Linked DNA regions of Homo sapiens: all the other regions are reported to be linked to region 4. Evidence: microRNA targets listed by miRTarBase, many of them from high-throughput screens and not tested one by one. Region 4 holds a microRNA gene; each other region holds the end of a gene's coding sequence.
The links. Region 4 holds the annotated microRNA hsa-miR-625-5p (AGGGGGAAAGUUCUAUAGUCC, at 3,878-3,898, opposite strand). A microRNA usually pairs through its seed, bases 2 to 8, with sites in the 3' UTR of a target mRNA and lowers its output. Matches are read on the target gene's strand: a 7mer-m8 pairs with bases 2 to 8, a 7mer-A1 pairs with bases 2 to 7 and ends in A, and an 8mer does both.

Region 1 (6,924 bases), not on the chromosome of region 4:
AGACAGAGTCTCACTCTGTCACCCAGGCTAGAGTGCAATGGCACGATCTAGGCTCACTGCAACCTCCACTTCCCGAATTCAAGCGATTCTCCTGCCTCAGGCTCCCGAGTAGCTGGGATTACAGTCATGTGCCACCATGCCTGATTTTTGTATTTTTAGTAGAGACAGGGTTTCACCATGTTGTCCAGGCTGGTTTTGAACTCCTGACCTCATGATCTGCCTGCCTTGGCCTCCCAAAGTGCTGGGATTACAGGCGTGAGCCACCGTGACCGACTATTTATTTTTTGAGATGGAATTTTGCTCGTCGCCCAGGCTGGAGCACAGTGGTGCGATCCTGACTCACTGCAACCTCCACCTCCCGGGTTCAAGTGATTCTCCTGCCTCAGCCTCCTGAGTAGCTAGGATTACAGGCATGCACCACCACGCCCAGGTAATTTTCTTGTATTTTTGGTAGAGACAGGGTTTCATCGTATTGGCCAGGCTGGTCTCGAGCTCCTGACCTCAGGTGATCCACCCGCCTCAGCCTCCCAAAGTGCAGGGATTTCAGGCATGAGCCACCTCGCCTTTCAGCCCACACAATGAAGGTTTATGAAGCCCCAGATTCCAGGGCCTCCACCACAACCCCATCTCTGCCACACTTCTGGTCCCACTGGGGGCCGTGGTCCCTGCCCACTGGACCCAGTAGGTGTAGGTGTGGGGGTCTGGGCCCCGGGGGGATATACACCTTAGTGTAACAGAACTCAGGGTCTGAGCCTGTATCCTCAGATCCATGACCTGGCCGGGTAAGGAAAGGAAGGGAAGGGGGTCAGGGTTCCTGCAGGAAGGTTATCTGAGTGGCCTTAAACAGACCCAGTTGTCTCTTACTTGTAGTTCTCAAGAGTAACAGTAGAATGTGCTGGGAATGCAACATCCGGAGATATGGAGGGACTGGCCAGGCGGCCTGGGCTCCATTCCTGCCTGCCCTAGAAACAGGATGCCCTTCAATGCTTGAGCCCGGTGACTCAGGTTTCCCCCAGAGTAGAAAACCCAGGGCTGGGTACTTTTTGGGGTCCCTCAGCTGCCATACAAGTGAGGCACACACAGTTGTGACCCTATCCTCCCTAGGCCACTTTCCTAAGCCTTGGGGGACCAGCTTACAACGGACCCTGGGATTCTGCTGTCCCTTGCTGCCCATCTGTGAGAAACAAGCCCACTTCATGTAACTTTTTGCGTGTGGCGTTCTGTCTCATCACTCTGGCAAGTTGGTAACCAGTGCACAGTGAACCTGCTTCACAGACCACACCCCATAGTCCCTGGGCCTCCAGAGCAAAGGGAAGCATCCCCTCCTTCCCACAGCCCTGCTTGCTCTGGAAGGATGCACCCTATCAGTGGGGCCGATGCCAGAGGCCTCCTGAGGCCTCCTACTCCCCAAGCCCAGAGTGCTCTCACCCCTCGCCCGTGGCCTCTGTGAGCGTCTGGCTGGGGCTGTTGACCTCATGCTTCTGGGCCCACATGCTGGGGTACTGCGTCCCTGCAGCCAGGCCCTCCACAGGCACCCTGATGTCTGAGGAGTCACTGGCCCAGCAGAGCCAGTAGGGGCAGGTCTTGGAGTCTGGGCCTGCGGGGCCCTCAGGGTGAGGGAGCTGGTGGTCTGAGCCGGTGTGACCAGGCCAGGGACTAGTTTGGGAATGTGGAAAGGAGAGAGTCATTTGATAAAGTTTGTTTGTGGCTCTAATGAGAATAAAGTGCACAGCCTGGCACTTTTTACAAATGTGCACACGCACGCACGCGCACACACACGCAAACACACATGCACACACAAGTGCACGTGCACACACACGCACATGTTGCTGGGCAGTGGAAAGGTGGCCCCTCTTACCTGTAGACATGCTCAGGACGTCCCTGGGGCCACCTACTCCTTTCTTCTTGGCCCACACAGAGGTGGTGTAGAGGGTCCCAGGCTGAAGCCCTCCACCACGAGCCAGCAGTGTGACGTGCTTGTGTTCCCGCTGGCCATGCCCCTGGACCCAGTAGATGGAAGTCTGCCGGTCTGGGCCCTTGGGGCTGCCCAGCTCAGGGTGATGGAGCTGGAGGTCCGAGCCTCCACACTCACGATTCTGTCTGCTTTGGCGGCTGACATGGGTAGAAGCCTCTGCGGCAAACAGAAGACGGAATCCCACGGCCCTTCCTAGACGTGCAGGATGGAGGCTGATGGGGTCACTAACCTGCTGCTGTGGCCTCTGTCGTGGTCCCGAGGGCCTGGGGAGGGCCCAGATGGGGAATCAGACCCACGGTGGTCTGACCTGCAGGATCGGGATGAAGGCTGCTGAGTCCCACCCCGCCTCATCCCCACCAGCCACCCCGGCTTGGGAGGGAAGATGGAGCCGGCGTTTTGCCCCTTGCCCCAGGTCTGGGTCCCGGCAGGGCTGGAAGGAGCCTGAGAGGGATGTGCGCAGCACCTCCGAGAGTCCCGCTTTAGAGAAACACGAATCAGATCATGAGAAAGCAGACCTCTGAGAAGTCAGATGAAAGGTCGTCGGGGGACCAGAATCAGGGAGGAGGGACACGACGCTGGGGCTGCTGGATGCCGACAGGAGAGCAGCGTCCCGTCGCTCTGGACTGCCGACCCCACAGAGCCCAGGGACCAAAAGCCAGAATGTTCCCCAAACACCAGGGATTATGGGCCCAGCCCCTCCTCCCTCAGACTCAAGAGTCCAGGCCCCCAGCCCCTCCTCCCACAGACTCAGGAGTCCAGCCCCTCCTCTCCCAGACCCAGGAGTTCGGGCCCCCAGGCCCTCCTCCCTCAGACTCAGGAGTCCAGACCCCAGCCCCTCCTCCCTCAGACGCAGGAGTCCAGGCCCCCAGCCCCTCCTCCCTCAGACCCAGGCCCCCAGCCCCTCCTCCCCCAGACCCAGAAGTCCAGGTCCCCAGCCCCTCCTCCCTCAGACTCAGGAGTCCAGACCCCCAGCCCCTCCTCCCTCAGACCCAGGAGTCCAGACCCCCAGCCCCTCCTCCCTCAGACTCAGGAGTCCAGGCCCAGCCCCTCCTCCCTCAGACTCAGGAGTCCAGGCCCAGCCCCTCCTCCCTCAGACTCAGGAGTCCAGGCCCCCAGCTCCTCCCTCAGACTCAGGGGTCCAGGCCCCAGTCCCTCCTCCCTCAGACTCAGAAGTCCAGGGCCCCAGCCCCTCCTCCCTCAGACCCAGGAGTCCAGGTTCCAGCCCCTCCTCCCTCACCTCCAGGAACCCCTCATGTCTGCAGGCCCCACGTGCCCCTGGAATCTGCACACCCAGACCCCCGTCCCTCCTGCTACACTTCACTGCGCAATTTCCTCTTTCCCCACCTTTCGCCAGGTCTGAGTGGAGAGGGTAGGAGATGAGGAGGAAGTGGAGGTTTCGAACCTGAGTCCAATCCTTCAGATCCTCCTCATGCCTGACCCTTCCTCAAGGAAATCCCTCAGCTTCCACTTCTCCTCACTCCAACTGTGGATTCCTGTCCTCACTTTCCTTCCTGGTCCCCGTCCTCCAGGCTCCCCACCTTCCCTTCCCACCTCTGTACTCTCACATCTGAGTCCCTAAATGCAGGTCATGGATGGAGAAGTCACCTCTCTGCTGTAAGAGTCCCTAAATGCTGGCCATGGATGGAGAAGTCCCCTCTCTGTCGTAAGAGTCCCTAAATGCAGGTCATGGATGGAGAAGTCACCTCTGCTCTAAGAGTCCCTAAATGCAGGTCATGGATAGAGAGGTCGCCTCTCTGCTGTAAGAGTCTCTAAATGCTAACCATGGATGGAGAAGTCGCCCCTCTGCTATGAGTCACTGAAAGCACATCATGGATGCAGAAGTCAAATAGGGTCTTGGAGAGCAGCTTGGACCCTGTCAAGTCTTCAGATGCAGAATCTGAGGACCTGAGGGATAGCAGCTTGCCGAGGTCACACAGCCTTGACAAGGAGCACAGCTGGGTTCCTCCTTCCCATTTGATTCCTACCCCCTTGCCGCCCTCCCTCCTCCAAGACCCCTCATCCTCAAGCCTCCCACCCTTCTCCCGATACTGCATGTGACTGCAGCGGGTTGTATCCCCTAGAAAGATATGTCCAAGTCCTAACCCCAGATACCTCTGCAGGTGACACTACTTGGAAATAGGGGCTTTGCAGACATACTTAAGGATCTTGAGATAGAATCACCCTGGGTTTAGGGTGGGCCCTAAATCCAATGACCTGTGTCCCTAGAAGGATGCGGACACAGAGGGAGGCTGCCAGTTGAAGACAGTCACATGAAGACGGAGAGACACAGCCACAGGCCGATGGAAGCCAGGGATTCCCGGGAGCCTCCAGAAGCCGAGAGGGCAAGGACGGATTCTTCCCTGGAGCCTCAAGAGGGACCATGGGCCGGAAAACACCCGGATTTTGGACTTTGGGTCTCCAGAACTGCAGGAGAGTCCATTCATCTTGTTTCAAAGCATCTGGCTTGGGGTAATTTGTGACAGCAGCCTCAGGAAACTAACACAAAGACCAAACAGTCCTCTTGGCTCAGTTCTGCACAATCCTCACTTTATCCCCCCGAATCCCCCCACCAGAGGGCCATGGAGGGTCCCACTGGGCACCAGGCCTGGTCCATGGGGAGCGACAAAGAACCTTCTGCTGTCATTAACCGCGATGGTTTATCACAATCATGACCCTCCCCGAGGCCTCTCCTACGGTAACAGCAACATCTACGGTTCCACACCCACAGGGAAAACGGATTCAGAGCAGCAGCAGGGGGCGGGCAGGCTGTGGGGCCGACAGTGAACATGGAGGCAGGCTGGTGGCTGGGAGGGCTCCATGTGGGCCTGGCTGAGGAGCCAGGGATCTGGAGTCAGAACCGGGGGAAGGCAGCTGGAACCCAGTAGTGGACTTGGAATTCCGCAAATCGTCCTCAAACGTCTTCAGCCAGAAGCGACGGCGGCAGCGGCGCCTGCAGACAGGCGTCAGGAAGCTTCGCTGCTGAGGGTATTTCTCAGGCTGGGCTGGGCTGGGAGGCCCAGGTCCTTGCAGGAGGAGAGGGCCTGAACACCGGCCCTTCAAGCTCCCTAGTCAGTCAGTCTTGGGCACCGGGCTCCTGAGGGCTGACAGTGTGATGAGGAGCTGGGCAGCATAGTAGGTGGTCATGATCACCAGGTGGGCATGGGGCAGGGGCTGGGCGAAGGTGTCCCAGGCCAGCACGCCATCAGAGAGCGTGAAGAGCAGCGCGCCCCAGCCGGCACTCCCGCCCTGGGCCAGGCCGCGCCACAGCATGGCCATCAGGATCAGCCCATAGGCTGCCACCGGCAGGACCATATCCGGCTCGAGGTGCTGGAGCACAAGGCTGAGGTAGGGGCCAGGGGCCAGGATGATGAGCAGCAGCAGGCCGGGCTGCAGGGGAGAGAAGCCGAAGGCCCAGACGTAGAGGAGGTGGGCGGTGGCAAAGGCGGCCATGCCTGGCGGGAGAGGGGTGGGGTACCAGTGAGGAAGGCCCATCCTGGGAATGGCCCCGAGGTCACCCCTCAGGGCCTAAGAGAAGGACCATCCCAGAGCACCAGGCCCCACCCTGGCCGAGCCTCCTTGCAGGTCTCCCCACATGCAGTGTCCATCCTTGCTCTGCTCAGAACTGCCAGGAGGCCCCACCTTCCCTTGGCCTCCAAAGCCCCATGGCCTCCAGCTCTCCAGCCACTCTGCGCCAGCCACCCTGGCCTGCTGGGCTACAAGCACCTGACACGTCCCTGCCCCGGAGCCTTTACACTCGCCCTTCCTCCACACAGGCATACAGCCCTTCAGCTCTGCCCAAATGTGACTTCCTCAGTGAGGCCTTCCTCAGCAACCCTGCTTCAAACTGCAGTACCTCCAGCAGGTCCTCACTGCCCTCTGCGCCACCTCAGCTACTGCCCTAACACCGCCTGCCCCCACCCCTCGCTGGAGCGTGAGCTGCCTCGGTCACGGCTGCGCCCCCCACTGTGCCTTTGACCACTGGAGCTCTCACAGGAGCCCTCTGCACCCAGGCTCCCATCCAAGTGCTGGGGCCTCTCTCACACGGGCATCTGGAAAGCGTCACAGCACCTTCCACTCACCAGGGACGAAGGCTGCCGGCCAGATGAGGCAAGCGTCCCCCACAGCCGAGCACACAAGGGCTCCCTGGAGGAGCTGGGTGTAGCCCCCGCTTGGGGACATGACCCACAGGAACCCAGCCAGGCAGAGGACGGGCAGGCACTTGACCAGGGCAGCGAACCAGGACAGCTGGTCCTCGGGAATCCAGAGGCAGAAGTACACGCAGCAGGAGAGGATGAAGGGGCTCAGCCACCTGCAGACATCTGGGCGCTTTGGGGAGTGGGGAGCTACTGAGCCGAAACCCAGCCCAGCCCCCATTCTTGGGACTCAGATCTCATGGCTCCTGTCCCACCCCCACCTGGGACCCCAGCTGTACAGGCTGGACCCATTCAGGGACCAGGCTGCCAGAACCCAGCTTCCCAGGGCCCAACCAACTCAAGGACAGCAGCTCCCAGACCCGCCGGCTGCTGGGGTTCCAGGGCCCTGTCCCCCCAGCCCCAGGCACAGCTCAGAAGGCTCTCACCTGGGCTGAGCAGTGAGTCTTCAGGGTCTGCCCCGCTTTGCCAGCGTCCATGCTGGCCTGATAGCCCCAGAGCGACCTAATCTGGGAGCGAGTGGCTTCAGGGGGTGGAGGGGAGGGCTCATGGTTACACGTTAACCCAAGGAGCGTCCTGTGGACTCTGTGACTGATAACAGGGCCCAGGGAGATGTTGTCCTCACCCTGGGGATGGCCCTGCCTGGCGCCCGCTGATAAAGCACTGTTGGCACTGGGGGTCCCTCTGCCCTAGCCTGCTGGGACATGGCTTCCTCCTCCTATCTGCCTGGGGAGGTTAGGCCCACAAATGCCTGTCCCCTTGTCCTGGGCCCCAACAATCAGAAGAGATGGGGTGCAG
Region 2 (3,000 bases), not on the chromosome of region 4:
TAGTATGCAATTAAATTTTCCACACCAGATTTCAGGCCCTGAAAAAGCAATTTGAAAAAGGCTCTCTGTGGCCGGGCGCGGTGGCTCACTCCTGTAATCCCAGCACTTTGGGAGGCCGAGGCGGGCAGATCACGAGGTCAGGAGATCAAGACCATCCTGGCTAACATGGTGAAACCCCGTCTCTACTAAAAATACAGAAAATTAGCCAGGCGTGGTGGCGGGCGCCTGCAGTCCCAGCTACTCAGGAGGCTGAGGCAGGCGAATGGCATGAACCTGGGAGGTGGAGCTTGCAGTGAGCCGAGATCGTGCCACTTCACTCCAGCCTGGGTGACAGCGAGACCCTGTCTCAAAAAGAAAAAAAAGAAAAAGGCTCTCTGTGCAGCCACAGCCTCCACTGGACCGTGCAGATGGGACCCACCAGGGTTACTGCTTGGCCCGCTCCACCATGGACCACCAGCATCTCCTCTCTACCATGGTGGCCAGCTGGAAGCCCTGTGGACACTGAGCCATGCCACAGAAGCCATCAGACGCACACCATGGGGAGAAATGGCAGTGTGGGGATCCAAGCAAGCCTGCACCGGCATCGAGGCAGAGTTTGCACTCCAGTCACTCCATGGTCGCGTGGCCTTGGACAAATGATTCACTGTGTGAGGTCCAGGTTCCACATCTCTCAAACTGGGATCTTAACCCCCAGCAACCTCTTCATCCCAAAAGGCCATGTTGATGTGAAATATCTAACACGTATGGTGAGCACTTAATGAGAGCTGTACTTTACAAACCTCAGTTTATTGACATTCTAATCATTCGATAGGTATTTCTCAGGCACCACATACAAAGGTTTGTTTTTTTGAGATGGAGTTTCGCTCTTGTTGCCCAGGCTGGAGTGCAATGGCGCGATCTCGGCTCACCACAACCTCCGCCTTCCAGGTTCAAGTGATTCTCCTGCCTCACCCTCCCGAGTAGCTGGGATTACAGGCATGCACCACCACGCCTGGATAATTTTGTATTTTTAGTGGAGATGGGGTTTCTCCATCTTGGTCAGGCTGGTCTTGAACTCCCGCCCTCTGGTGATCTGCTCACCTCAGCCTCCCAAAGTGTTGGGATTACAGGCGTGAGCCACCACGCCCGGTCTTGTTTTACATTTATGGGAGCCTACAACATGCCCAGTTCCAAGTTCAAGAAGGAATGGGAGCTGCAGTTGTTGTGGTCTAACAGCTTTCCGTTTAATGTCACACTGTAAATGACACCAATTGCACCCCAGGAGGTTCCCACTCTGTAATAGGTGAACCAGCCCGTGGCCCACGGCTGGAAGATCACATGTCAGAGCTCTGCATGAGCCAGGGGAGAAGGTGCTGCATGGACAGAAGTAAGTGGGTGACCAGTGCCACTAAAAGCAGAGCTTGAGTTTACTCTCATAACCATCGGCTGTGGGCCAGACATTTGGCTGCTTTGCAGGCAGACCAGGCTTCCCGGTGAGTCATGCTGCTTAAAATGCTGTCTGGGAACGCAGAGAAAGTCTAAACGCCAAGACGCTGAGGACAGCCCCGCAGGTGGACTGCCATGCCCGGCTCGGCCCCTTTTTGGTCCCCAGAGTGGACCCTTCTCCTCCCCACAGAGGGGAGGCATCTGATGGTGGCTTCAGCAGACAACCTGGAGAAGAACCACTCAGGGTTTGTCTTGCTGACGTCCTATAGCCAGCAAAACCCAGGGCAGGAGAACCCTGGCTCTTTAGGGCAGGTGGGGGAGAGGGCATCTTAGCAGGGAAGGAGCTAGGGTAATGCCAGAAGCAACCCACTCAGCAGGGCCACTCAGCAACCCCCTGGCGAGCAGAAAGGTGGCAAACAACACATCTTCTGGGCAGACTCCTTTGAAGAGAGGTAGAACATACCAGAAAGGAATAGCATTGTGACAGCAGGGCCGGGTGGGTGTCCTGCTTCTGACAGATCTAGTGCTGAGGGCAGACGTGGTGCATGTCTCCAGGTTTCAACCACACACAAACCGGTCGTGAAAGTTTGAAAGATATTTATTTAAAAACAGAACAAAAAAGCTTTGGTATTTCAAAACCTGACAATCATCAATCACTAGAAAGTTAAACACCTCCCCTGAAGCCCCAAAGTACAAAACCACAGATGTCCACAGGCTCCTAAAAAAGGGCGTGCAAACCCGAGGATGACAGCACAACCCGCACCCTCCTACAGGCAGCAGCACAGCCACCCTGGGGGGCCCCGGCCCAGCCTCGGGACCGTGGGGCCTCCGAACGCCGAGATGGACATCACCGCCAACACTCACCATCTACAGGGGATGCAAAAGCCATCTAGCAAAATCTCAACAAAAATAAATTAAAACTTCATTAAGAAAGAACACGTTAAATTAGGAAAAGGACACAACTTTTCCTAGACAAGAGTCTTTTCAAAAGATGATCTATTTCCTGGGACAGAAGAAAGGGGGAAAGTGGAAGGAGTGAGTTCCATTTCAAGTATTTGCCATACAGGTTCATTTTATTGAGTGGAAAGCTTACAAAAGGTCCACTGGCCCCTTCCCTCCCCACGTGACACTCATTCCTTCCAATGCAAACTCTGGTGTATCCACACTCACTTCTGCGTCACCGGTTTCCCCCAACAAGGCACAAAGGGCGGGTGCTTCCAAAGGATCCCTTGCTCCTGGCAGCGGGACTTTCAGTGCTGGGTGTCTTGTGCAAATGGTGGCTGAAAGCAGGACTGTTAGTTCACTCAGACACTGGGATCTTCCTGTTCAATTCACAAAACAAGTGTGATTACTGTTCACTGCCAACCCCAGTGGCCAGCTATAGAAATAGGCTACGGAGACAACCCTAGTGGCACCACACCCTGGCTCTGACCCAGCCTTGCAGAATTACCACGGACTCAGTGGCCTGGGCCCTTCTGGAGCTGAGTGTTCACTGGCTCCACTCTGGCATGGCCCAGCTTGAGCCTAAGTCAAGGAGAGATCGGTCAGTACCCCATGAAGGTAGTTTGGCTCATT
Region 3 (8,224 bases), not on the chromosome of region 4:
GAGCTACTGACGTCTCTAATTCTGCCCCTCCGAGCTCTGCCTGGAAGTCCACATCCGGAGGGGCCGCCTATCGGCCAAGTCTATCCACACTCTTCCCGTAAGCCCCTCAAAAGCTCAACATATTCTAGACAGACCTCTGCCTCTCCCCATTTGTTTCTTTCCTGCGTCCCTATCTCAGTGACAGCCCTAACATCCACCAGTTCTCATACGAGAAACCTGGGCGTTCTTCCAGACTCCTCTCTCCCCACATTCAGTTCGGCTGATTTGCCTCCCGAATATTTCTAGTATCTGTTTGTCCTCTCCACCCCCACTGATGCTGCCCCAGCCGTCTTTCTGCTTAGCTCTCCTTGCTCTTGCTCTTTGACACCGTTACTAATCTCCCTGTTTATGTCCCCTCCCCGCAGGGTCCGGCCCACACAGATCAGCCCAATCTTTTTAAATACATTTTTTTTTTCGAGACAGCGTCTCGCTCTGTCGCCCAGGCTGGAGTGCAGTGGCGCGATCTCGGCTCACTGCAACCTCCGCCTCCCGGGTTCAAGCAGTTCTCTGCCTCAGCCTCCCGAGTAGCTGAGATTACAGGCTCCTCCCACCACGCCCGGCTAATTTTTGTATTTTTAGTAGAAACGGGGTTTCACCATCTTGGCCAGTTAAAGGCATATTTTAAAATGTTACTCCCTTGCTTAACATCCTTACAAATGTTACTCTCTTGCTTAACATCCTTAGTGGCCTTTGGAAATGCTCCAACCTGGTACTGGAAGTTCTTAAGAATCTGGCTTTTACCTACCTTTGAAGCCTCGCTCTCTCTCTCTTAGCATTTTCTCGACACATCTGCTTTTCAAAAACCAAGCTATCCTCATTGTTCCTAAAGCAGCTAGGCTCTTTCGGGCACCAGTGTCTTTCACTATGTTATTCTCTCTCCCTGAAATAGCTCTTTACTTGGCAAAGTCCTATGGATCTACCAGAGCCTCTTGGATAGCATCTCTTTTGGGAACCCTCTTAAGGACCCTCAGACCATACTCCTCCCGGATTTATTTCTTGCTTAACACAGCTTGACTTCCCGGACAGACTGCGACCTCCTTGAGGATGGAATCGGTATTTTGGTTAAATTTATTTCTGCATGGGCCTTGCACATAAAAAACGTTTATTGAACAAACGAATCCTGTATGTTCCTCCCCCCAGGCAGGAAACGCTCCCTGGGAGGGAGGGTAGTCTATTGGTGAGCTAGGACGTTTGGACTCAGGGTTCCGAGGAACCAGGAGCGATCCTTAGTGGGCCGAGACTTCCGAATTTGATCAAAGGTAAAGAGGGACTGGAGAGCGGTCCATCTGACTTCTGTGGGGGATGGGCAGGAGTCAGGGGCGGACGCCTGAATCTTGTTTCTCAGAAGAGCCGAGAGGCCTAGGCTCAAGCTTGGGGCGATCCGGTACTTGGAGGTTCGAAGCTCCTAGTTTCGGGTTGAGACCGATGTGGAGGGCGATGACGCGCGGGTTCCTTGACATCGAGGATCAGTAACACCCGGAGTGGGTGGGGAACGAGGGGGGCGGCCCCTGAGCTCAGGCCCCGCCCCTTTCCGGGGACGTTTCACCGGATTGGCTGTCCTTCCATAACGACATGCGGCCCCGCCCCGGCGCGCGCCCCGCCGCGTGCCCAGCCCGGGTAGCTGCTGCAGCCTACGCTGCCTCGGCCACTGCCTGCCGCGTGCGGAGCCGGAGCCCGAGCCTGAGTGGCGCCGGGCCCGACGTGGGGCTCCTGGGCCGCGGCGGCGGGCGGGCGATGCTCCAGAGGCCTGACCAGCCATGGAGGCCGAGGCAGGCGGCCTGGAGGAGCTGACGGACGAGGAGATGGCGGCGCTAGGCAAGGAAGAGCTAGTGCGGCGCCTGCGGCGGGAGGAGGCGGCGCGCCTGGCGGCACTGGTGCAGCGCGGCCGCCTCATGCAGGAGGTGAATCGGCAGCTGCAGGGCCACCTGGGCGAGATCCGCGAGCTCAAGCAGCTCAACCGGCGTCTGCAGGCAGAGAACCGTGAGCTGCGCGACCTCTGCTGCTTCCTGGACTCGGAGCGCCAGCGCGGGCGGCGCGCCGCACGCCAGTGGCAGCTCTTCGGGACCCAAGCATCCCGGGCCGTGCGCGAGGACCTGGGCGGCTGTTGGCAGAAGCTGGCCGAGCTGGAGGGCCGCCAGGAGGAGCTGCTGCGGGAGAACCTAGCGCTTAAGGAGCTCTGCCTGGCGCTGGGCGAAGAATGGGGCCCCCGCGGCGGCCCCAGCGGCGCCGGGGGATCAGGAGCCGGGCCAGCACCCGAGCTTGCCTTGCCCCCGTGCGGGCCCCGCGACCTAGGCGATGGAAGCTCCAGCACTGGCAGCGTGGGCAGTCCGGATCAGTTGCCCCTGGCCTGTTCCCCCGATGATTGAAGGCACTGCTTCCTCCACGCCGACGCCCGCCCGGATTGCTCCCCGAGCCCCGGGACCGCTGTGGACCTCGGGACCTGGACGCCGTCCTGGCTGCGCAGGAGGGGCCGCTGGCATGGACTAAGAAATCCTGACACCAAGAAGGGCCCCTCGCTCTTGCTGGCAGGGCAGCAGGGGGACTGAAGGCTGGAGCGGAGGGACTTGCTGGGGGTTGGATTGGGGGTAATAAACCCGGACGGAAGCGGAGCCCACGGCCTGGGCAGCGTCTGTTTGGTACTCGCCGGGGTTGGGGCGAGGGTGGGGTGCTGATACAGGGTACAATTCCCATCCAGAAGGACTGCAGAACTAATGATTCCCCCATTACTTCGAGCCTGGGGTGGGATGCGGGGCAGTGGTAAACCAGACTTCCCCCATCGGGCGCCGGGACCGGCCTTAATCCAGCCCCTGAAGTGGCTCCAGCTCCCTTCCCGGCTCCTTCCTGTCCAAGACAATGGGGCAGGAAGCAGGTGCTGGGGGCCTAGAACCACTCGGCCGCCTCCTCTGAGGCTGGAAGGGGGCATAACAGCGCCCCTCCGTGGCACACGCAGCAGCACTGTGGGCCCCCACGGGGAGAGGGGCGGTAAGCCTCTTCGCTTTTACCCCAGAGGACTGTCTCCCCTCAGTCCCGGAGATGAGGCCGAGCGGATGTAGCCCCACTTGTCAGATAAGACAAAGTCCAAAAATATCAAAGAATTTGTCCAAGGTCATGCAGTGAGTCTGTAGAGCTAAGGCTGGGACCTAGGGCTCCAAATACTCTCCCATTGGCCTCTGGGTCCAGTGAGGCACTCAGGCCACAGCTTCAAGCCTTTTATTCCATTTTGGTAGGTTTGTATAAAAATACTCTCTTTAGGAAAATAAATAGCAGCTGCCCTCGCTGTGGAGGCTTGGATTCCCTGGAGCTGAAGGCTTCTCAAAGCTGAGATCCGCAGATCAGCTCATCACAGAAGCCAAGGGCGCCTCCTGAGCTGTGCGGTTCAGGAGGGGGCGGCAGAATGGCCTGGTCCAATCACCTGCTGCTGCTGGCAGTGGGGCTGGTGAGTTAGTGTTCTAGGTGGGTAAAGTGGCACCTTCTGTCAGGAGATAGGGTTGGGTGGATCACAGGAAGAGGGTGATGGAGAGTGTGGCAGTGATCTGGAAGGGGTTAGGGCTCCAGAGGACCTCTAAGGATCTACAAAGTCTCTGGGCTGCCAGGATTCCTCTGGCACAAATGGGAAATATTTTGTCTCTGATTTAGTGCAAATTGTGCTAGAGAGGCCAGCTCAAGAGAAACAGTGGGCAGCTTTGGTGGCCCCAAGCTGGCTCTACTGTGAAGCACAATATGGTCAGTCTCATTAGAGGGATGGAGAAGAAGTTGCTGGAGTTGGATGTGGGATACTGTCCAGGCCAGCTGGACCGGTGGGGGAAGGGGAGGAGACATTGGCTAGGGTGGCATCTGCAGGGAGTAGGGCTCAGGCGCCTCACAAAGCGAGGAGGGTTGGAGAGCCAAGGGGGTCAGAGGATGGGTCTCCGCTGCTGCTGCTACTCTTGCGATGAGCTGAGGCACAAGGCTCAGGAGTGCTGGGGTAGGTGAAGACCAGGCTGGGGGTGAAAGGAGTTAGGGAGGGTGTGGTCATGAGTGTGGGGGTGTGCAGTGCCTCAGGTTCAAGCACAGGCCCTGGGGAAAGGGAGATACAAGGTACAGGGCGGCAGGGGGCTGGTGGGCTGCTGGTGCCACTGGTACTGCCTGTGTCCCCCTCCTTGGCTCCTTCCGGGATTTTGCAGATGGGTCGGTGGGCTTCCAGCACCAGCTCTAGGCGCTCCTTCTGCTTCTGCAGCTCCTCAATCTCTCGCTGCAGCCCAGATTTCTCATCTTCCAGTTTGTCAGTCTCCTGTAGAAGATCAGGAGAGGAGTCAGAAAGGTGAGGGCTGAATACCCCAGAGCCGCAGACGTTTGGACTCAGGGTTCTGAGGAGCTGGGGTTGGGCGGGGGGAGAGGGGGGGCAGTGGAGAGTCCCCAGCAAGTCTGGACTACAACTCCCATAAGCCCCTGGGAGAAAATGGGCACAACTCCCATCAGGCCCAGACGTTTTAGGAGATTGCTGGCACCAGGCAGTGACTCCGGCCTGTAATCCCAGCACTTTGGGAGGCTGAGGCGGGCGGATCACTTGAGACCAGGAGTTTGAGACCAGCCTGGCTAACTTGGCGAAACCCCGTCTCTACTAAAAATACAAAAATTAGTCGGGTAGGGAGGCAGGCGCCTGTAGCCCCAGGTACTCAGCAGGCTGAGGCATAAGAATTGCTGGAGCCTGGGAGACAGATGTCACAGTGAGCCATGAGCCGAGATCTCATCACTGCACTCCAGCCTGGGTGACAGAGCGAGACTCTGTCTCAAAAAAAAAAGGAGATTGCTGGCTGAGCTTCAGCTCTGCTGTGAGTGAGACATGCTGCAGCCAGTTTCTAATCAATTTTTCCTCATCATTTTCCCAGAAGGACTGCCCCTCAGACAAGGAGCTAGGATGGTGAGGAGGGGGCTACATATACTGGGGCTCTGGGGGCTCTGGGAGACAGGGTCCCTCTGAGCTCGGTGGACCAGGGCTGGTGCTCACCGCCTGCAGGAAGTCGGTCAGTTCCTTCCTCCGGTTCCTGCACTTGGCCGCAGCCAGCTTGTTCCGCTCGCGCCTTACTCGGCGGCGCTCCTCTTCCTCCGGGCTGATCTGGGGGTGAGACCCGCAGTGAGGAGGACCCTGGGCTACTGGCTGCCTGGAACTCGCCCCTCATGGTGGCCCAGTGGTAGGACCCTGGCAGAGGTCATGGCAGGGCCCCCTCAGCCGGTGATTTAGGGATCACTGCACCCAACCAGTTCCCTGCACTGAGGCGCTGTCTGCTTTGATTGGTAAAATTTCCTCCTCGCACCTAGCTTTAGTGCACATTCCTCTCCCATAATGCCCTCCCCCTCCGCAAACCCTAACCCTCCTCATCTCCCAGGACTCAACTAAGATGCTCCTGCCTCCAGGAAGCCGTCTTATTCCCCAGCCAGAAGTGACCTTTCCTTCTCAGCACCCTCTTTGCAGGACCCTCATCCTTCTGGATCTGTGGACAACCAAGTCTCCTCTTCCATGAGCTGTAAGCACTAGGAGGGGCTAATGAGTGCTGCTGATTAAGTTGCAATTTATTGGAAAACTACTATGTGCCAGCCAAGTACTTTACGTAGATTCTTGTTTTTCACTGAGAACATGCAAAGATTTTATTTTATTTTATTTTATTTTTTTTAGACAGAGTCTCACTCTTTCCCAGGCTGGAGTGCATTGGCCCAATCTTGGCTCACTGCAACCTCCACCTACTGGGTTCAAGTGATTCTCGTGCCTCAGCCTCCCAAGTAGCTGGGATTACAGGCATGTACCACCACACCTGGCTAATTTTTGTATTTTTAGTAGAGACGAGGTTTCACCATGTTGGCCAGGCTGGTCTTGAACTCTTAACCTCAGGTGATCCACCCTCCTCAGCCTCCCAAAGTGCTGGGATTACAGGCATGAGCCACTGTGCTCGGCCTTTTTTTTTCTTTTTTTTTTTTGTGTAGTGACGGGGTCTCACTGTGTTGCCCAGGCTGGTCTGGAACTCATGGGCTCAAGGGATCCTCCTGCACTGGCCTCCTAGAATGTTTGGATTACCAGGGGGAGTCACCACAGCTGGCCTCTTTTTTAAAAAAACATAGATTCTTTTTTTTTTTTTTTTTTGAGACGGAGTCTCACTCTGTTGCCCAGGCTGGAGTGCAGTGGTGCCATCTCGGCTCACTGCAAGCTCCGCCTCCGGGGTTCACGCCATTCTCCTGCCTCAGCCTCCCGAGTAGCTGCGACTACAGGTGCCTTCCACCACGCCCAGCTAATTTTTTGTATTTTTTAGTAGAGACACGGTTTCATCATGTTAGCCAGGATGGTCTCGATCTCCTGACCTCATGATCCACCTTCCTTGGCCTCCCAAAGTGCTGGGATTACAGGCGTGAGCCACCATGCCTGGCCTTAAACTAGATTCTTAACGCAACTTTCCATGAAAAACTGAAGCCCAGAGAGGATAACTTACTTATGGTTCCAGAGCAGGACTTAGAACCCATAGAACTCACTCACTCTATTCCACATTGAGTGACAGGCCAGATGAGAGAGACCATTTCACCAAAAGGATCCAACTCACAGCTCACAGCCCTACCTGGAGAACCCAGGATCAAAGGGTCACCCTCAGGACCAGGCTGAAGGAAGGACGCACAGGAGGGTTTACCCCTGGCCCGCTTCTGCGGCTCATACCACAGTCCCTCCTCACCACAAAGGCCAGACATTCTGTTCTGGGAAACCTGTCTCTGGCTGATCTCTCACCTTTCCCAGGGCCCTAACCTCTCTCCCCATCCTCTACCTGCCGACCAAGCTTTTTAACCTCATCCCCTGTAGTCTCCCACACCAAAATGCCCCAGGGAGAGGAAAGATGAGCCACTCCTTTAAAGACTCGCCATCTCTTACTCACTTATTTTGGTAAGGGCTTTGGGGAGCCAAGAATTGTCAGTTCCCTCTACTTTGAGCCTTCTGTTAGCTTCCAGTGAGACAGCGTGGCTTGGTGATTAGTTTTGGGGGTTTTATTTTATTTTGTTTTTTCGGTAGAGACAGGGTCTCTCTATGTTGCCCAACCTAGTCTTGAACTCCTGGCCTCAAGTGATCCTCCTGCCTAGGTCTCTCAAAGTGCTGGGATTACAGGCATGAGCTACTGCACCTGGCCCTGGTTTGGTGGTTAGGATCTGACTTTAGAGTTGTATAGACCTGGGGCCAAGGCCAGTCCTGTGTCATTACTCACTACTTGTGTGATCTTGGGCAAGTGACTACCCTTCTGTGCCTTCATTTCTTTGGTGGAAGATGGGGAAAACCAGAGTACATTCCCCAGAGAGATTTTGTGAGGATTAAATGAGACAGGGAAACTGAGACTGAGGGAGTAGCTGAAGGGAACCCTCTTGTTCCTGTTCTCTCCCAGACAACATAAGCGCCCCCTCTATGCATGTCAGCAGGTGGAGACCCCCTCACCATTCCGTGTGCGCACCTTACATGTTCTTGCCTCCGCCTCCATCCTTGCTCCTGCCACCCCCGCTACCTGGAATGTCCTTTCCTTCCTCTCTGCCTCTGCCAGTCCTACCCATCCTTCTAGGCTAATATGCCACCTTTTCCAGGAAGCTTTCCCTGATCTGGAAGTGACTGTTGTACCCTCTGGGCCTCCCGTGGGGCTCCTATCACTTTCAGCCTTGGGCAGTAGTCACCTGTAGCCTACCTTACCCCCTCCTAAGCCTGTGCTCTCCTTTCTGGCAGGAGCTTCTCTGCACCCTAGCACTCCTGGGCGGGGTCGGAACCACTGCAATGCCTCTGTGCCTTACCTGTTCACAAGGCCTTCGACGTACCCCTGGAGGCGGCCCCAGGGCCCGGATGACTCCTGGCCGGGGTTGTGGGGGGCTGTACTGAGGGTAGGTCAGAGGCCTGGGGTAACTGCTGGGCCCCAGGAAATGAGGCTGTACCATCCACTGCAGCTCCTGACTGCCACTCATGGTGTTGATGCTTGGCACCAGGTGGAACTTCTAAGGAATAAGAAATGGAAGGCCACAGATGAGGTCCGTGTGGATTGAGGGGCTTCCACTGGGCAGAGGCTACACTGCTGTCTACCTTCAATGTACAGGCTAGCTCTGGGAACAGAAAGAGCACAGCTTGGCAGTCAGAGACTGACCTGGTGGCAAATCCCTGCTCATAAGCTGTGTGGCTTTGGGGCAGGTCACATAACCTCTC
Region 4 (8,224 bases):
CTTTCCCAAAAAAATCCTGTCTTCCAGCCAGGTGCGGTGGCTCACACCTATAATCCCAACACTTTGGAAGGCCGAGGCAGGAGGACTGCTTGAGCTCAGAAGTTCCAGACCAGCCTGGCAATACAGCAAAATAAAAATAAACAATAAATCTTATCTTCCCTGAACAAATCCACAAAAATGAAGGATGAATATCAGTTGAGAAATTTCACTACTTTTACAATAAAATGAACTGTGTAGTATTTTCTTCTCTCAGGCTCACCAAGGTATTAGGAGAAAGATGGTTATTTTTCAATCTTGGCAAATAACTTGAAGATGACAAGAGTAAAAAAGCCACATGGATTTATAAAATCTCTAAGAAATAATAAGGCTAGAAGATTAGGTACAACAGAAGATCTTTTTTAATTTTTTATTTATTTATTTATTTTTGAGACAGAGTTTTGCTCTTAGAGTGCAGTGGCACAATCTCGGCTCACTGCAACCTCTGCCTCCCAGGTTCAAGCGATTCGCCCAGCCCCATGAGTAGCTGGGATTACAGGTGGGAGCCAGCACGCCTGGCTTTTTTTTTTTTTTTTCAGTAGAGACAGGTTTTCACCATGTTGGTCAGGCTGGTCCCGAACTCCTGACCTCAAGTGATCCGCCCGCCTCAGCCTCCCAAAGTGCTGGGATTACAGGCGTGAACCAACCTGCCTGGCCTCTTTTTTTTTAAATATCTTTTTTATTTCAATAGCTTTTGGAGTACAAGTGGTTTTGGGTTACATGGATGAAATGTATAGTGGTGAAGTCTGAGATTTTACTACACCCATCACCAAAGTAGCATACATTGTACCCAATATATCGTTTTTTATCCCTTATCTTCTTCCTATTCTCCCCGCGTCTCAGTCTCCAAAGTCTATTTTACTATTCTGTATGCCTTTGCGTACCCATGACTTAGCTCCCGCTTGTGAGAACATATGGTATTCAGTTTTGTATTCCTGAGTTACTTCACTTAGAATAATGGCCTACAGCTCCACCCAAATTGCTGCAAAAATGTTATTTCATTCTTCTTTATGGCTGAGTGGTATTACATGGTGTACATATACCTGTATAGAATAGAAATGCTTAAAACAATCCTCTAATAGCTTTTACAGATGAGCAAGTAGGGTCAGAATCATCAAATTCACCATCTCAGTGACACCAGAAGTTTCTAGAAGTCTCTAGTCATACTGATTTTCCACTTAAATTGCTGGACCCAATTCAGTTCTAAACATTAGTTTAGGGAGAAGTCAGAAGAATGCAGAGAAGTCTAATAATCCTGACAAAGATGCCAAATTAAGCCTACAAACATTAAATTGGTAAGGAAAAGTTCAATTTGTGAGTAAAATATTACAAGAATTAAACACAACATATTAAATTATTGGACTACAGTCAATTTACATCCTAAGTATGAGTGTCTAGAATACCAAGTTTGGCACATATAGGAGATCATTTTTATCACCTAGTCACAAAACTACAATTTTTGGGAATAAAACTGTGTAAACTGCCGTGGCAATGTAAGTCCAAAAGCATTGTTTTCTAATTATATAAGTAAGAAAAAATTTCTAATCCCGTTTTTCAAGATCCAATAAAACTTAATTAGTCCTGTGAAAGAGAACACAAAATGCTCCCCAAATGAAGGTGAGAGATAGAAAAGACAGACAAAAAGAGAAACAGAGAGAGAGACAGACTTCTGAAAACCCAAAGATATGGTACAAACATGGAAAAGCTAAATGTACAAAGATATTACAGCAATACGTACAATAAACTATCAGTCTGACCAACCTAACAGTACCTCACTCAATGAGAAAACATTGTTAGAAATGGGAAACATTTACACTGTTAACTGAAATAAGGCACAAATTTGAAAAGAAATTATTATTATAACTTTGTAAAAAAAATTGTGTATGAAAAAGGACTAAAAGGCACATATACCAACATGGTAACCACAGTTATGTTAAGATCATGGGACTGCATGTAATTCTTTTACATTCAATAATAATAATAAATAAAAGTTATAAATAAGTTGTCTAAATTATCTATAATGTGATCTTTTCAATGTAAAGTTTTCTAAAGAAAATAAAATTATATCTTACATTTAATTTACAACAATGTCTTTTTCTACTTCAATTTCTACTAAGATATTTGAGCACTAAATTCATTATATGAACTAAGTTTTTTACCATATCACAAAAAAAATAAGAATAAACATTACCTTATTCTGTGCTCATAAAAATAATTAGTGGGCAATCTACTAATTAAGAAATTCAATGTAAATGAGTCATCAAATTAATTGGTTCCATAAATCCAAAGTATCAGCATAGGGCTTTAATAACCATCCTCAGCATCATCAGTATACTTATCAGAAGTGCAATTAGTAAAGCCTGACATGACCCTACACCCAAAAAGGCTATAAAAATAAAGTTGTTTTTTTTTTTACAGTATAAGAATATAAAAATAAACCTTTGGCCATCAACATAGAAAACAAAGGCTGCTGTTGCCCTCAATCTATACTTGAAAACAGAATAGTAAATAGCCTGAGTCTATGCTATCACTTAGATGATTGTCCCTCCTGTTGAAATTTGATCTCAATGTTGGGGGTGGGGCCTAATGGGAGATGTTGTTGGGCATGGTGGGGAGGGGTCAGAACCCTCAAGAATAAATTAATGCTCTTCCTCAGGCATGCTTGAGGTCTCACTCTATTTGTTCCCCCAAGAGCTGGTTGTTAAAAAGAGCCAGGGCCCCTCCTCCCACCCTTTTCTCCTCTCTCATTTTGTGCACAAGCTGGCACCTCTTTGCCTTCTGCTATCAGTGGAAGTAGCCTAAGGCCCTCACTACAAGCCGATCCTGGTGCCATACTTCTTGTACAGCCTGCAGAACTGTGCGGTAAATCAAACTCTTTATAAATTACCTAGCCTCAGGTATTCCTACATAGCAACACAAAACAAGACAAGGCAGTCAATTCATCAATAATAAGAATCAGTCCTATGATCAACTTCCCTCTGGAGAAGTTTTTTAATCTTTCTTGCAAATTAGAATATATTATCCCCAAAATGTGCAGACCTGATGTCAGAAAGAGATAAAATTCTTAATGAACAATACTGCCAAATGAGATAAAGGATACTGTAATAAGTCTTTTGACTAGTTACAAAAGCATCAAAAATGGTCAAAAAATAACCTTAAGTACAGTTGTAAAGAGCTTGTAATTCATCACTCCCAACCTCACGACAAGAAAAAAAGCTGGGGGTAAAAAAAAAAAAACTGATAATCCAACTCTTCTTAGAGCCATCAGAGAATTGAGGTCAGAGGGCAAACTGCTGCTCTAAAACCTGGAGAGACAAGACAGGCAGATAGAGAATCACAGTGTGCAGGAAGCAGAAGTCCAGGAATACAAGCTCTCAACTGAAGCCAGCATCAGTAGGAACACTTGAAACAGTAATTGTGGACTAGCTTGAGAGTTAAAAACTGTAAGGGGACCAGTCTTACAGGGGTCCCCATACTTTCCTGAGTTTTACCTCCAGGAGCCCTACCAGGTTCTCATGGTAAAGATCTGAAAAAAAACCCCTCCTGCTTGCAGCAGGGGAAGAAGAAAAACCATTTTGAAATACGCCAGGAACTTTATTTCTCTTAAAAGGTATTCCAGAAAAGGAAACTATTTTACCAGAACCTAACCAACTGGCTTTTAGATTGCCTAACCTACTACGGTTTTACAGTGCCTAACCAACCGGAGGGAAGGGAAATACCCAACTCCAGCCCCATCTATCCTTTGACCGAGAAAAAGAGACAGTTACTCAACTCAGGCTCACAGTTGGTAGAGGGCAGAGGGATGAGGGGGAAAGTTCTATAGTCCTGAGATCTAATTACAGGACTATAGAACTTTCCCCCTCATCCCTCTACCCTTACCACCACATCAGTACAGCTCTTGTACAACACAGGATTACAACTTAAAAACCTGCAAGCCTCAGACCCCATTTAAGGATTCTTTACAAAAACCCAAAGACAACAGGGCAGATAAAAGCAAGGACAGTAGAAGAAATTTTAGCCTCTAATAGTGATGGCGGTGGCTTTCTGGTACATGGACGGCACAGGGAGAGGCGGACAGACCCCCTCCCTCAACAGCCCGCCGCCCTCTGTGCAGCACAGTCAAGCAGAGAGCAGACCGATGCAGAGCTGAGGCTGAGCTTCAGGGGCCTGAGGCAGGAAGTGGGAGCGGTGCCCACTTCAGGGACCAGCCAGTGACACAGCCACTGCGCCCACCCCACTGAGGGTGCCAGGTTCCTGGGCCTCAGGAGGAGGCTCTGTGCAGGGCTGCCCGGGGCTACATCCCCAGGGTCCACCCCACATCAGGCGACTGCTGAGCCTGCCACTCCCAACAGCCAGGCCGGACAGTTATCTGCTCTGCCTGGGCCACTGAAGCGCCAGGGCAACTGGGGTAGCTCCCGGCGATGTCACCCCTGCCCCGGATCCCAGCCCAGGTCCAGCAAGGATCTGGAGCCCCTGTCTCAGGCTGAAAGGGGGCGGAGCCAGGGCTGCATGCTCCACAGTGCCAGTGGGAGCCAGGAGCAGGCAGCAGCCCAAGCCACCCAAGCCTGGGTGGTAGACCCAGGCCTCCATGTGCTCTTGGGGACTGGAAACAGGCAGGAGCCCTGTCCCCCAACCCCATACAGCTGCAGCTACCCAAGTCAGGGTTGTGGACCCAGGCCTCCGTGTGCTCTTGGGGGCTCAGGAAGGCCCCCCTTGCCTTTGCAGGCTCGGAAATGCCTGTTCCCGCTGCCACTTCCCGCACCGGCTCCAATGTGGCAGGTTCTCAGAGTGGGGTTGGAGCCAAGCCTGGATATCATCACAGCCCAACAGGATATGCGCATGCTCAGGCCCTGCCGCCTAGGCCCCCTCTGAGGAAGCTGAGGTGGAGAGCTGCTCCATGCTGGCAGGCAGGTGCCCCTTGGCACAAGCAGCCTGGGAGCCATGGAAAGTGGCAGGAAGCAGACAGGCTCCTGGGTGGAAGGGGGCACGTCCCCAGATAGACCCCACCTTCAGGCCAGGGAGGGCCTGAACGTTGGGGACCGGGCTGCCAGTCCCGCAGACTGCAGTGGGGGCTTGTGGTGCCTTTTCCAGCCCACCCATGGCCACCGATGTACCAATTGACACACTTCCTCCCCACTGAGGTCCATAAAAGCCCCGAGATCAGCCAGAGCAGGGCAGAGGCCAGAGAGACAGCCAGATGACTAGCTGCAGAGAGGAGCTATCGTCTCTGCTGAGAGCTGGGAAGTCAATGGGGACCTGCCTGCAGAGAGGAGCCACTCACTCCAGGGCCTCCTCTCTGCTGAGAGCTGAACACTGGATGAGACAACCTGCCTATAGAGAGGGGCTGCCCTCTGCAGCTCTCCTCTGAGCTGTTCTAACACTCAGTAAAGCTTCTCTTTGTCTTGCTCACCCTCCACTTGTCTGCATACATAATTCTTCCTGGACACAGGACAAGAACTCGGGCAAAGGCGCCACTGGCCACAGAGGTTTCTAGACAGAAAAGCAACACCTTAAAGATCCCGTAACATTTGCCTCCGATACCACAGCCAGAACAAACACTAAACACAGCCTGACTTCTAAACAGATAAACATAAAACCTCACACTAAAGGCCTATTTACCTCAGTTCCTTTTACCTGATACATTCTGTCTGGCTATGAAAAAAAATTATGAGGCACTATAAAGGCAAAAAATACAATCTGAAGAAACAAAGCAAGCCTCGGAAACAGACTCGGATGTGGCAGAAATTTTTACCAGGAATTATCAAATTATCACCAGGAATTTTTTTTTATATATATGTTTTGAGACAGGGTCTCACTGTTACCCAGTCTGGAGTACAGTGGTGATTCACAGCGCACTGTAGCCTTGAACTCCTAGGCACAAACAATCTTCCTGCCACAGCTTCCCAAGCAGGTAGGACTACAGGTGCATGCCACCACCATGCCCAGCTAAGTCCTTTTTTCTAAGACCGGCCTGGGCAACATTGGAGACCCTGTTTCTACGATTTTTTTTTTAATCGCCAGGCATGGTGGCACACACCTGTAGTCCTGGCTACTTGAGAAGCTGAGGAGGGAGAATCACTTGAGCCTAGGAGTTCAAGACTGCAGCGAGTTATGATCACGCCACTACTGCACTCCAGCCAGGGTGACAGAGTGAGATCCTGTGGAAAGAAAGGAAGAGTAAAGAGAAGGAAAAAACAGTGAAGAGGGGAGGCGAGGAAGGGGAGTGTACAAATCAATAACACTGTAACAGGAAAGAATGTCTTTAGTAAGAAACACCAAACCTGGAAGTTCAGAGAACACCAAGCAAGATAAATACCAAAATATTTACATAGGCAAATGATAGTGAAGCTGCAGAAAATAAGACAAAGAGAAAACTAAATCAAAAGCAAAACTTTAGTTTTTTCCTTATTAACTTTAAGACCAATAAGATATCTCGAAAGAAGCAAGAGGTAAAGAAAAAAATCAACACACACAGAAAACATCTTATCCACAGAGAAATAAAGAATTAGATCAAACTTTCTCTTCAGAAACCATGCAAGCAAAAAGAGTGAAGTGAAATATTTAGTGTTAAAAAAAAAAAAAAAAAAATCCAACCTTTCGGCCGGAACCACCATCTTCCAGTAATTCGCCAAAAGGACGAACACAAAGGGAAAGAAGAGAGGCACCCGATATATGTTCTCTAGGCCTTTTAGTAAACATGGAGTTGTTCCTTTGGCCACATGTATGCGAATCTATAAGAAAGGTGATATTGTAGACATCAAGGGAATGGGTACTATTCAAAAAGGAATGCTCCGCGAGTGTTATCATGGCAAAACTGGAAGAGTCTGCAGTGTTACCCAACATGCTGTTGGCACTGTAAGCAAGTTGTAAACAAACACGTTACTCAGCATGCTGTTGGTATTGTAAACAACTTGTCAACAAACAAGTTAAGGGCAAGATTCTTGCCAAGAGAATTAATGTGCGTATTGAGCACATTCAGCACTCTAAGAGCCAAAATAGCTTCCTGAAACACGTAAAGGAAAATGATCGGAAAAAGAAAGAAGCCAAAGAGAAAGGTACCCGGGTTCTACTGAAGCACCAGCCTGCTCCATCCAGAGAAGCACACTTTGTGAGAACCAGTGGGAAGGAGCCTGAGCTGCTGGAACCTATTCCCTGTGAATTCATAGCATAACAGGTGTTAAAAAAAATAAAAGACCTCTAGACTGGCTGGGCACGGTGGCTCACACCTGTAATCCCAGCACTTTGGGAGGCTGAGGCGGGCAGACCATGAGGTCAGGAGTTCGAGACCAGCCTGGCCAACATAGTGAAACCCTCTCTACTAAAAATACAAAAAATTAGCTGGGCGTGGTGATGGGCGCCTCTAATTCCAGCTACTCAGGAGGCTGAGGCAGGAGGATCGCTTGAACCCAGGAGGTGGAGGTTGCAGTGAGCCAAGATCACACCACTGCACTCCAGCCCGGGCGACAGTGTGAGACTCTGTCTCAAAAATAAAAAAGAAAAGAAATACAAAAAATTAGCCAGGTGTGGTGGTGCGCACCTGTAGTCCCAGCTACTTAGGAGGCTGAGGCAGGAGAATCGCTTGAACCCGGGAGGCAGTGGTTGCAGTGAGCCAAGATCGTGCCACTGCACTCCAGCCTGAGTAACAGAATGAGACTCCATCTCAAAAAAATAAAATAAAATAAGACCTCTGGGCTGTTAAAAAAAATAAAATAAAATACCAAACTAGAATGCCTATAGAATCCCAGCAAAAGTATCCTCCAAAAGTGAAGAAATAAAGACTTTCTGAAATAAAAACTGGGAGAAATGAAACCCAATAAACATGACTTGCAAGAAATGTTAACAGAAGTTATTCAGAAAGAAGGAAAATTATATAGATCAGAAATATGGATTACAAAAAGAAAGGAAGAGTGTAGAGGAAAAAAATAAAGGTAAAACTAAATCTTTTGTTTTTCTGATCCTTAATTCATCTAACAGATAACAACTTGTTCAAAATAATAATAGCAACAATATATTTAGTGACTGTAAATTATGGAAAAGTAAAACAAATAAAAGTAATGTTATAAGGAATGGGAAAAAGGAACTGACAATACTAAGTTGTAAGGTATTTGCACTACCCATGAAGTGGTAAAGTGTTATTTAAAAAGTGAACTTGGATCAGTTTAACTGTGTAATTATTGCAAACTGTGGG

Region 1: the mRNA of TMEM86B is a reported target of hsa-miR-625-5p. Seed matches in the 3' UTR shown: 7mer-m8 at 4,835-4,841.
Region 2: the mRNA of KIAA2013 is a reported target of hsa-miR-625-5p. Seed matches in the 3' UTR shown: 7mer-m8 at 2,444-2,450.
Region 3: miRTarBase lists FOSL1 as a target of hsa-miR-625-5p. Seed matches in the 3' UTR shown: 8mer at 3,838-3,845.

What each region holds. Positions count from the first base shown.
Region 1 is chr19:55,222,137-55,229,060 of GRCh38, forward strand. It overlaps TMEM86B (transmembrane protein 86B), which reads right to left and starts at 6,627. Exons shown (of 3, transcript NM_173804.5): 1 at 6,555-6,627; 2 at 6,055-6,301; 3 at 4,502-5,427. The coding sequence starts at 6,605. The coding sequence ends at 5,045. It also overlaps a transcript of PPP6R1 not described here.
Region 2 is chr1:11,917,586-11,920,585 of GRCh38, forward strand. It overlaps KIAA2013, which reads right to left. Exons shown (of 3, transcript NM_138346.3): 3 at 2,006-2,747. The coding sequence ends at 2,730. Among named protein-coding and RNA genes, the nearest start is that of KIAA2013, 7.3 kb to the right of the region's middle.
Region 3 is chr11:65,888,988-65,897,211 of GRCh38, forward strand. FOSL1 (FOS like 1, AP-1 transcription factor subunit) reads right to left here. Exons shown (of 4, transcript NM_005438.5): 2 at 7,822-8,019; 3 at 5,027-5,134; 4 at 3,062-4,309. The coding sequence ends at 3,899. CCDC85B (coiled-coil domain containing 85B) reads left to right here and starts at 1,686. Exons shown (of 1, transcript NM_006848.3): 1 at 1,686-2,648. The coding sequence starts at 1,797. The coding sequence ends at 2,405. RefSeq lists a silencer at 1,477-1,956 and enhancers at 3,097-3,146, 3,187-3,346, 4,631-5,135, 5,238-5,347.
Region 4 is chr14:65,466,790-65,475,013 of GRCh38, reverse strand. It overlaps MIR625 (microRNA 625), which reads right to left and starts at 3,912; the gene lies at 3,828-3,912. All of the region lies in intron 2 of FUT8 (fucosyltransferase 8), which reads right to left. It also overlaps the pseudogene RPL21P8.